Regions from separate parts of the Homo sapiens genome. Here region 2 is linked to region 1. The links come from fine-mapping of genetic effects on gene expression. A gene starts in region 1. The other region holds a variant in brackets. All regions are shown on one strand. Distances are from middle to middle. Region 1 holds the start of GRHL1 (grainyhead like transcription factor 1). Region 2 overlaps GRHL1 (grainyhead like transcription factor 1).

What was found.
Region 2: its variant is fine-mapped to the expression of GRHL1 in whole blood (INTERVAL, PIP 0.95).

The regions. Positions count from the first base shown.
Region 1 is chr2:9,949,565-9,954,935 of GRCh38, forward strand. It overlaps GRHL1 (grainyhead like transcription factor 1), which reads left to right and starts at 2,129. Exons shown (of 16, transcript NM_198182.3): 1 at 2,129-2,289; 2 at 5,351-5,371. The coding sequence starts at 2,270. It overlaps LOC105373422 (a long non-coding RNA gene), which reads right to left and starts at 1,289. Exons shown (of 3, transcript XR_922784.4): 1 at 1,141-1,289. RefSeq lists silencers at 1,360-1,439, 1,590-1,639, 1,740-1,789, 1,880-2,419.
Region 2 is chr2:9,975,894-9,981,264 of GRCh38, forward strand. The region is part of intron 8 of GRHL1 (grainyhead like transcription factor 1); the gene reads left to right. Among named protein-coding and RNA genes, the nearest start is that of GRHL1, 27 kb to the left of the region's middle. The variant C/A (reference allele first, on the strand shown) is at 3,105.

The sequences.
Region 1 (5,371 bases):
AATAAATGATTTAAACAGGAAACTAGTGGTAAGAACAAACAACAGGCTGCATGGATCCAGTGCTGGGCCCGGGGTCAGAGGACAGAAACTGCGAAGGGCGGTCTCAAGTGAGGCTGCCGATTCCGGTCCCTGAAGGCCTTGGACCAGGGCACAGAGGAGGGACTGCTGGCTGCAGGAGGGCCCTGTGACCTCATGCTGCTCCTCACTTCACCTCCTTCCCTTGGCTTCCACGCTTCCATTGCTTCCGACCTCGGTGTCCCCGTCTTCTGTCTCCTCCACTGGCTCTTCCTCCCAGCCTTTCTGTGTCGGAGGCTCCTGGATCCAGCATGGGTCCCATCCTCTTTCCTTCCTGCCTTCTCATGGCTTTAAATGGCCTCTAGACGTGGGCGGCGCCCAGATGTGAGCTTCAGCCCAGACTTCTCCCTTGCACTCCAGCCTCGTACCCAGGAGCCCACCTGATTCATGGATTTTTATCTCCCATACATCTTGAGCTTAGCACGTCCAAAACAGACTCTCGTTCTCCCCCAAATCTTCTATGCCCCAGGTCTTCTGTATCCCAGGGGATGGCAAATCATTCCTCCAGTTGCCCAGCTGGAAACGCTGTAGTCATCCTTGATTCTCTCTTTCTCTCACACCCCATATCCAATTTTCAGACAATCCTGCTGGTCCCACCTTCAAAGCATATCCAGAATTCGGCCACTTCCCACCACCTCACTCTATTGCCCTCGGCCTGCATCATGGCAATGGCCTCCTACCTGGTCCCCACCACGCAGCAGCAGAGAACTATTTTAAAATGTGAGACCCTGTCACTACCCTGCTCCAAGCCCCTCCAAGGCGTCCCCACCTAGCCCAGAGGGAAAGCCACAGTCCTTACGGAAGCCGGCAAGGCCCTGCTCAATCCGCTCCCCTGCGCCCACTATCTCTGACCGCAGCTCCCGCCTCCCTGTGCCCCACCAGCCACCCGGGTCTCCTCAAGGGTCACAAAACACACCAGGGTCCCTGCCTCAGGTACAGTCCCACCTTCGTGGCCCCTCATCTCCTTCAAGCCTGAAAGCCTCGCTCCTCCCCGCCTCCCCAGGGCCTGCCTGCTTTACCTTCCAACCAGCCACACCATTTACTTGTTTTTGTATTGCCCGTTACCCCAACTAGGAAGGCGAGGAGTTGTGTCTGTTCTGTTGACTGCCCTGTCCCCGGCGTCTGGGGCCGCGCCTGTCCGAGGGTCAGGTCCGACGCTGGGCATGTGGGGACTCAGTGAGCGGACCCTGGGAAAGACGGCAGCTCGGGAAGGACAAGTGGGGGCCGTCGCGGTGGAGTGGTGCCCGGGGCCGGCCCGGGGCGCGCGACTGCACGGGCAGCGTGGGGCGGCCGCGCGGGGAAGTGGCGCCCGGGAGGCTGCGGGGCACAGACATCGCGGAGCCCCAGGGACTGCCGCCGAGGGGACCGCGGGAGCTGCGAGGGCAAGAAATCCTAAAAGCGCGCGGCCGCGGTGGGCCAGGAGAAGGGACATTCCGGAGACGGCTCTCGGGGGAAGCCACGGGACTCGGGCGTGACAGCCTGCGAGAACCGAGAGGTGAGACGCGCGACCGGGGAGCGCGGCGACCGGCAGAGGCGCCCCCGCCGGGCGAGCGCAGGGGCAGCGCGGGGCGCTGGGGCCGGAACAGCGGGCAATGTGGGCACGGGGCGCGGAGGCCTGAGTGAGCGAAGAAGGAGGCGGCTGTACGGCCGGGGCTCGTCGCGAAGGGGATGGCCGGGGACGGCGGGGACGGCGGGGGCGGCGGGGGCGGTGGCGGGGCGCGAGCGGGGGCGCTCTCGGTGCGCGCGGAGGTTGGCGGGTGCGCGCCGCAGCCGCAGCGCTCCCTCTCCTGTCAGGGCAGGCGCGTACGGCCGCGAGTCGGGCGCGCAGCCCCGGGAGCGCAGTCCCGGGCGCAACCTCGCGGAACGCGCGGCCCCCGCCCCCCGCCCCGCGCCGCTCGTCCCCGTCAGCCCCGCCCCGGCGCTCTTCTCGCCGACCAATCAGGAGGCGCGACCGGCCTCCCAGCCCCGAGGCCTCGCCCCCAGCCGGCGCATCGCCAGCCAATGAGCGGCCGAGCCCGGCGCCCAGTGCGCGCAGCCCGCGCGGAGCCGGCTCAGAGCGAGAAAAGCAAACCCAACCCGTCGGGGCCGCCGCTCCGGACCCGCAGCCGCCGCCGCCGCCTCCTCCCCCCGGATCGGGTGTACTGTCCCAACCCGAAAGTCCAGTTCTGCGGCCCGGCAGCGGCGAGCGGGCGCGATGACACAGGAGTACGACAAGTGAGTGAGGCGCAGGAGTCCGGCCGCCGCGGGGGGGCCGCGCTGAGGGGCCGCACCTGCAGCGAGCGAGCCGGGCGCAGACCCGAGGCCGCGCGGGCGGGCGGGCGCGGGGCGCGAGCCGGGGGCCGCTGTCCACTCCACGCCGCCACGGCCTTTGCCCCTTAGCCCTGCCGTGCTCTTTGTTCGGTCGGAGCCTCGGGAGGAGAGACCCTGTCCTCGGGGAAACTCGACACCGGAGGGGCCACCCTCCTCCCCTCCTCCGCGGCCAGGTTGGGTCCCCTCGGGCGCGCACCTTGGGGTCCGGGCCCCCGGCGCGGTCGGGTGCGGCGCGAGGTCGGGGCGCAGCCAACGCCCCCGGGCCTCCCCGCCCCCCTCTCCTGCCCGGTCGGCCTCGGGAGCCTGGTGGGGCTCGCGCCGCGTCGGGACAGGTGGACTTCTCCAGGTAATCTGTGGTCTCAGGCTCGTCACTCGGCGACCTGCTGGAACCTCCAAAACAGAAATGTAGGGAAAGGTTGAAGTGCCCCGATGTCCGGGCGTTTTCTTTTCCCTGGCTGGCGGCATGAGTGGGAAAACGGCTGTAGGAGTTATTTTGCCACTTGCATCATTGATGGTAATTACAGATTACCGTGTTTTTAGTGCTCGAGAGAATCAAGAGGATGAAACTTTGAAATCCGGGTGTTAAACGAGAAAGTACTGTACAAGCTAATATGCTTTTTAGAGTGTGTGATTTAAAAGCGTATTTCGACAAATGTGAGGTGGTAGTGTAATAAGGCATGGGGGATTAACTGGGCGAGGGAGTTTTCTGTATTTTCTTTGCAGCTTTTCTGAAAATATAAAATTGTCCTAAAAATTTTAAAAACTTACTAAAGAAAAAACAGGGAAATCGCACCAGGCCAGTCAGTATATTTCAGATCAGGAAGTTTAAGGCAGATAGGTACCCCTCCCAGTTTCTTAGTTATTTGTGAAGGATCGGTTTTTGTCAGTGTGTTCTTTTTCTGGATGAGATAGATATTTTGTATGGAGTATCTTAAATGGATTACTCTTATGTTGTAGAATATGCAGTTAAATTATTGCCTGAAACATATTTCAGAAGTCTGAGAGATCGCAGACGCGGAGTTTAAGGCTCACCTGAAAGTGATGATGAGCCTTCGGCGACTGAAGCCTACTTCCTGACTGTCATGAGGAAGTGGACTAAGAAAGGCAACTGGTTTTGTGTTTATTTCTTGACGTATAGTTTAGATAAGGCAAATTTTCCAAAGCTAACATTTTGGCCTTAGGCAGGCTTTGGAAATATGAAACACCTTCAGGGTGATTCCAAACATAAAGCCATTTCTTTCTCTGTTTTCTATTGCTTGTACAAATTTGGGATGTGGGTGGGAGAAGAAGGGAAGTTGAAAACTAGCATTAAGGGAATTGAACAGCCAAGTGCTGTCATAGTCTTCTGGAAGTAGCTATTACGCTATTAATTATAGCTTAGCAGTACATCAGTCAATCAGTCCATGGCACCAGCCGTTCAGTAGCTGTTGTACTCTGGTCCTGATGGCTCAGGGAATGCCACTTTGTATATTTCTTTATTTTCTTTAAAGTTGAGATTTGTGTAAGCAATCTTCTCCATTTTTAGACAAATGATCTGCTGGCTTTGAACAGTCTTTTATGTTTGTTTTGTGTTAAAATAGTATACCACCTCAAGACTTTCTTACCAAATGTAACGTTTATGCCAAAACGTGAGTAAAAACATTGGCTTTCAAATAACACTTCATTTTGACTGAGGATACATTGTTGGATTTTTTTCCCCTTTTTTGAAGATGTTCTCCTTTTTCTAAATCTGTATCTGTTCTTAAAGGCCCTGGGTGACTCCCAAACGCTAACCTTTGTTGATTACTTGAAAAGATAATCAGTCTTTCTACATTCACTTTTAAAATAGGCAGGTCACCTTTAGGCCATTTACATATTTCATTTGTGTGTTGCAATGAGAGCCAGTCCTTCAATTTGCTTGTTAGAATTGTAATAATTCAGAGGAGTTCCAAACATTTAAAATTTATTTTTCTCCTTGAAAATAAACTGCTTTGTTTTGCTAGAGTCAGTGTTCCATTTTTTCTCTTTATTGACTTATTAAATAGTACCAACCGAACAGTTGTTGAGACTGTTTACATTTCAAGTTTTTGGAATTAGTAATGTTTGCTTTAATCTTTTAAATTAAATCTTCTGTAAGGTTTCACTAAGATCGCCATTGATTTTTTTGGATTTTTCCCACCAAACTACAGTGTTAAAATGAAACAGTTCTTGTGCAATGTGGAAAACTAGCAAAGATTTTTTAAAAGCCAGATTTTCCCACCTATTTTTTTTAAAACTTTTTGTTCAGTGGCTTCATTTATTGTTGGATATCCTTAAGTGTTTATCTCTAAGATAAACAGTTAACTCCCATGCCAGAAAATTATGCCTCTTTATTGATTTACAGTCCCCTTTGGCCACATTCCATGCTCAATCTGCTGGTAATCAGTAGAATATTCTGGCTTTCTCATATACCCTGGAGGATTGCGTGAAGGATCCCTTTTTCTTTCTGCTGCTTCTCCCCTCCCCACTGTGTTCAGGTAGGAATTTTTAAGGCATGGCAGCCACAGTAGAAAGAGGGAATAACATGTAGCAGTGTGATGAACGGCACACGCTCTTCTCAAGAGGGGACAGTCCTGATTGTGTGTTGGAAGAGAACAAGTATTCTCTTTTCTTTACTGTGTCCTTGTGTTTGTTTATGGAAAGTATTTGAATAGCCTGGCATTTTCTCGGGGATGGTTTTGTTTCGCTTTTTTGCCAAATAGTATACCCTGGGTTCCACGTGTAGGTGAACTGCCAGTTCTCTGGCTGCCTAGATACTTTATGTCTTACTGTGGGACCCATTGGTCTGCACTTACGTGGTTTGTCTTCTGGTCTTGTCTTAATTTGACTTCCTAGGGTCATTGATGAAACAATAGGCTATTTTATAGGAATGTCAAGGAATTGGTAGCTTATGATACCTTGCAGTAGAAAAGTGTGTGTTTTTGTTTTTTTTTTAATTTCTCTGAAGCAAACGGCCAGTGTTGGTTCT
Region 2 (5,371 bases), 26 kb after region 1:
CAAAAAAACAAAAAATAATAAACACAAATAACTTGTGGATTTGGACAAGTTACCTAACCTCTAAGTCTTGGTTTCCTCATCTGTAAAATGGGTCCAAAATAGTACCAATTTCATAGGTGTTTTTGAGGGTCAAAGAATGGTATAAAAGTAGCACAAATACCACAGCAGCATGTAGTTTTATTTGGCTGGAGTTCAGGAAAGTGAGTCATTCGTCCAGGAAACGTGTATTTCTTATTGGCCAGGCACTGCCAAGATGCTCTTGGAATGGAAAGATGAGTAATCCATGACCCAAAACTCAGAACTCAGTGGGAGGATTGCACTCTAGTAAGCGTAGGGTTGCAGGTGACACGAAGGAAGGGAACCTCACTTGGAATAGGAAGATTCGTCACACTTCTCAAGTGACCCTCGGCGGGGGTGGTGGTGGGGGTTCCTAAAGGATAGTGGGAACCAGGCTGGCATGCAGAACCCAGAATGAGCTGTGACCTTTGATGTCTTCTGAGCCAGGAGTGGTGGGGACTGCAGAGGAAGGCCCTGGGGTGCCCTCGCAAGGAGCTTGTCTCCAATCCATGGGGTCTGTGGACCAAGGGTCTTGGGGTTGGAGGTTCGTTGAGGCTGTGTAATGTTGTGACCCCAAGGGTCTTGGGGTTGGAGGTTCTTTGAGGCTGTGTAATGTGTTTTCAAGTCAGTGATGAGACTTTTTAGTCAGAAGCGTATCCTGCATGCCACCAGAGTCAAATGCTGCCAGGAGACGTCAGTGCCAGGGTGTGCGCTTAGGTTTGGGGTTGAGGCCAGATAAAGGCCACATGAGGTCTTGGGGTGCTGGGTGATCAGACGTTTTGCAGTCATTTGAATAGAGTGGCATTTCTCAGACTCAGATCTGGGTATATTTTTAGGGGTGAAGCAACTTTTGCCTTTTAAAGAGGATGTGTGTAGTATTCACATTTGGGAAATACTGTTACAGGTGGGGTACAAAGTATGGCTGGAAAGGTGGATTGGAGTCACATAAATAGCTTGAATGCTAAGGAATGTTGTCTTTTTCACATAGACTGTGGTAAGCTACTGCAAATGTTTAGGAATACATTATTAAGATTCTGAAGTGACACTAATATTTGGCAATTGCCTAATATTAAGCAATCTGTCTCTTTTTCATTTCATTGCCTGATTTGTAGCCATTTTATTGTTTAGGGGGTCCTCTACTAGAGGTTGGAAGAAAATGTTTAATTTCTGTAACTTTATATTAGCTCTTTTTATTGTTTGTGTTTATTTGGTGGGGGCACTGTTATGTATTTATAAGTTTTATGAGGATTTGAAACTTGTTGAAATAAGATTTGGAGACAGTATGTAGATTTTGTATGCCCATCGTTTTTCTGTCTCTCATTACTAGTATTTAATTCAGTACCATTTAATAACAGATAATAATAAACACTGGAAGAAATTTTTTTTTTCAGACGAAGTCTTGCTCTGTCACTCAGGCTGGAGTGCAGTGGCATGATCTCAGCTCACTGCAACCTCCGCCTCCGGGGATCAAGCAATTCTCGTGCCTCAGCCTCCCGACTAACTGGGATTACAGGCATGCGCCACCTCACTCAGCTAAGTTTTTATATTTTTGTTAGAGACAGGGTTTCACCATGTTGGCCAGGCTGGTCTCAAATTCCTGGCCTCAAGTGATCCGCCCGCCTCGGCCTCCCAAAGTGCTGGGATTAACAGGCATGAGCCACCACATCCAGCTGGAATAAATTTTTAAAATGAACAACATCCCTGCCTTCAAGGGACCTAGGGAACTTACTAACTGCAGTGTTACAGGGACAGGAGTTAAACAGAGGTGAATGTTAAGGTTCTCACTCCGCCCTCCGTGTCCTTGATCCAGGTGATGACCTTGACCGAGGCAATGAGAGTATAGAGAAGTGGCCATTTCCCTAAAGAATCTCATAGTCTGGTGTATTAGTCCATTTTCATGCTGCTGATAAAGACATACCCGAGACTGGGTAATTTATAAATAAAAAGAGATTTAATGGACTCACAGTTCCATGTGGCTGGGGAGGCCTCAAAATCATGGCGGAAGGCGAAAGCCACGTCCTCCATGGCGGCCGGCGAGAGAGAATGAGAGCCAAGCAAAAGGGGAAACCCCTTATAAAACCATCAGATCTCATGGGACTTATTCACTACCACGAGAACAGTATGGGGGAAATCGCCCCCATGATTCAGTTATCTCCCACAGGGTCCCTCCCTCAACACGTGGGAGTTATGGGAGCTACAATTCAAGATGAGATTTGGGTGGGGACACAGCCAAACCATATCATCTGTCCTCACAGGGAGTTTGAGGGAAGGAAAAAGCTACTTAGTCCAACTTGGTAAGTGGTAAAAGGGAGCTGTACATAGAGTGCAGTGGACACAGCTGAGAGTGTGAGGGATTCCCTTTGGGCAGATGAGGGGATGGTGATGAGAAAGGGTGTATCCGTTGGTGCTGGATCTTTATCCATAAGGGAAATGTATGTCAGTAGACGATGGAGGAAAGGGTATTTTAAAATTCAGGGGCAGAGAAAATGAAGATCCCCAGAGTTTGGAAGTGCCTGTAAAGGAGATGTGAACGAGAATGGACATTTGGAGCTGGATTTTGGAAGGCCTTGAGAATTTGGATTCCTGCCTTCACACTGCAGAGAACCATTGAAGGCTATTAGTGGTTTTTCCTAGCTAGGCTCTTTCATTTTCCCAAGCACTGAGATGATGCTGCCTCGATGAGCACCTGTGACATCTCACTTGGTCTTATGAACTTACTCTATTTTAGTTTGAAAATCAGGTCTTTAAAAAGGAAACCAGCCGGGCATGGTGGCTCATGCCTGTAATCCCAGCACTTTGGGAGGCCGAGGCAGATGGATCACCTGAGGTCAGGAGTTTGAGACCAGCCTGGCCAACATGGTGACGCCCCGTCTCTACTAAAAATACAAAGATTAGCCATGTGTGGTGACGGGCACCTGTAATCCCAGCTACATGGGAGGCTGAGGCAGGAGAATCACTTCAACCCGGGAGGCGGAGGTTTCAGTGAGCTGAGATCGCGCCATTGCACTCCAGCCTAGGCAACAAGTGCAAAACTCCCTCTCAAAAAA[C/A]AAAATTCAAAAATTAGCCAGATGTAGTGGTGCGCGCCTGTAATCCTAGCTACTCAGGAGGCTGAGGCACGAGAATCGCTTGAACCCGGGAGGTGGAGGTTGCAGTGAGCCGAGATCGCGCCACTGCATTCCAGCCTGGGCAAGACTCTCTCTCAAAAAAAAAAAAAAAAGGAAACCTTATCCAAACTGTCATAAAGTTGCTTCATATTAGTCTTAATGGATCTAAATGTTCAATCTTTTTTTTTTTTTTACTCTAAAGACAGGGTCTCACTCTGTTGCCCAGGCTGGAGTGCAGTGGCATGACACAGCTCACTGCAGCCTCTACCTCCTAGGCTCAAGCCATACTCCCGCCTTGGCCTCCCAAGTAGCTGGGACTACAGGTGCACACCACCATGCCCAGCTAATTTATTTTATTTTCTGTTTTAGAGACAGGGTCTCGCTATGTTGCCCAGGGTGGTCTCAAACTCCTGGACTCAAGCAATCCTCCCACATACAGGTGTGAGCCACTGCCTGGCCAGTGCTCAAATTTTGAAATTGTTTTATTCTACTCAGTTGAGCAAACTATATTATGAAAGTCTTATGGAAATTATTTTCAGCATTATAGCAGCAACGTTACAAAACCATGTAAAATTCTACCTAAATTTCTCAGTGGAAAAAAAAATTAAGACTAATATTTGGATGTTGGATTATTTTCTTATAGGTGAATGATAATACAGAATGAGTATTACTGTCATTGTGGTAATTTTTAAAGAGCAACAGCCTTTTTGCTAGTTCATGAAAAATACCCTGATATGTATTAAACATTTGCATCCCTTAGCTCCTAACTTCACCACTTGATGTTTTTGTAACTTTTGACTCATGGACTCCAAGTGCTTTGTTCATGCATTCTTTTCTGTGAATTAGGAGATTTAAAAATATTTCTATAATTTCTCTCCACAAATTAAATTCACTTGTTAAAGTTCACGTTCCTGACTACTCTCTTTAGACTAGACAGTTAGCAAGCTTTACTGGAATTGTGTCTTGGTTTGTGGTGTTGATAAAAGCTCGAAAGGAGTGGGTGTGTTGGGGGTTTTATAAAATTGATTCTCAGTTACTTTCCCTATACCTGCTGTGAAATGAACCTCTGATGGTGATCTGTGTTTTGAGCACACTGGGTTTGGTGGTTTGTTTTTTTTTTGTCTTTTTCCTCCTTGTTTTCTCTTTGAGGACTAACTTGGCAGACGCAGCCAGGTGTGAACAGCGCTTATGTGGCTGCCGCGGTGCTTCCTGGAAGAATCATTATAAATTCGTTCAAGATCTGATTTCTTGTTGGTTTCTGTGCTTGTGAGCATTTAGAATAAAAGTCTGTATCAGTTAATCCTTTGATTATGTAAATCATTTTATTTTGTTTTCCTCTCATTTTCAAACTGAGGTTTGAAAACCAAAAAAAAAAAAAGAATTAAATATTTTGAAACATTCTAAGTGCATAAATTCTTGGTCAGGAATGAGGAACTGTCCTTAGAAAAATGGGCTAGACATTTAAAAAGGAATCTTGTAGAGCACCTTGGCCTGTTCAGCAGTTTATGTTTGTGGTTAGTTTTTTTCTCTTCCAATAATTTGGGTGGGAATAGTAGTTGCTCATCTTTTGAGATTAATGTTCTAATTATTTGAATACAAATGTTTTCTCTCAAAATAATTGGGAAGGAAGTATGAAAACAGAAAAGGTCATCTTTTGAATTCTTAAAGTTTTATGTCAGAGATCTTCACATCTTTCTAGAGAAGGAAGGTTGTAAATCATTCAGCCTACTCCGATTCTGAAATGGGGCTTTTTAAGTGTGCGTGCATTCCTGTATGTTTTATAGAGGAGGAGTTGGATGTGTGCTCATTCATCTTACTTTTTACCTCTTTCCCATCCTCTGTAAAGATAGTGGAGTGTTTTCTGTAATCACAGTGATAATTTGTCTGCAGGATAGGAATGGTCCGAGCCTGGTTTTACCTGGATTTGGGTGAACAGCCCTGTGGTCTTGCTCACTCGGGGCTGCCCATTAGGTAGAATCCATGGGAAGTGTTAAAACTGAGGAACAAAGTGTGCCCATCTTGTTGCTCCCACTGGACCCAAGGGAGAGCTCTGGCTTGTGTTTCTACACTCGCCATATGTGTATGCCAGCAGCTTTTTAACATTAAACAAAACTGTTCAGTTGCAGACTAAAGAAGGCCACCCTCCTGACCATAAAGCTCCCCGGAAGCTGCACTTCTCCCTCAGAACTTACCTGGTCCCCTCCATGAGT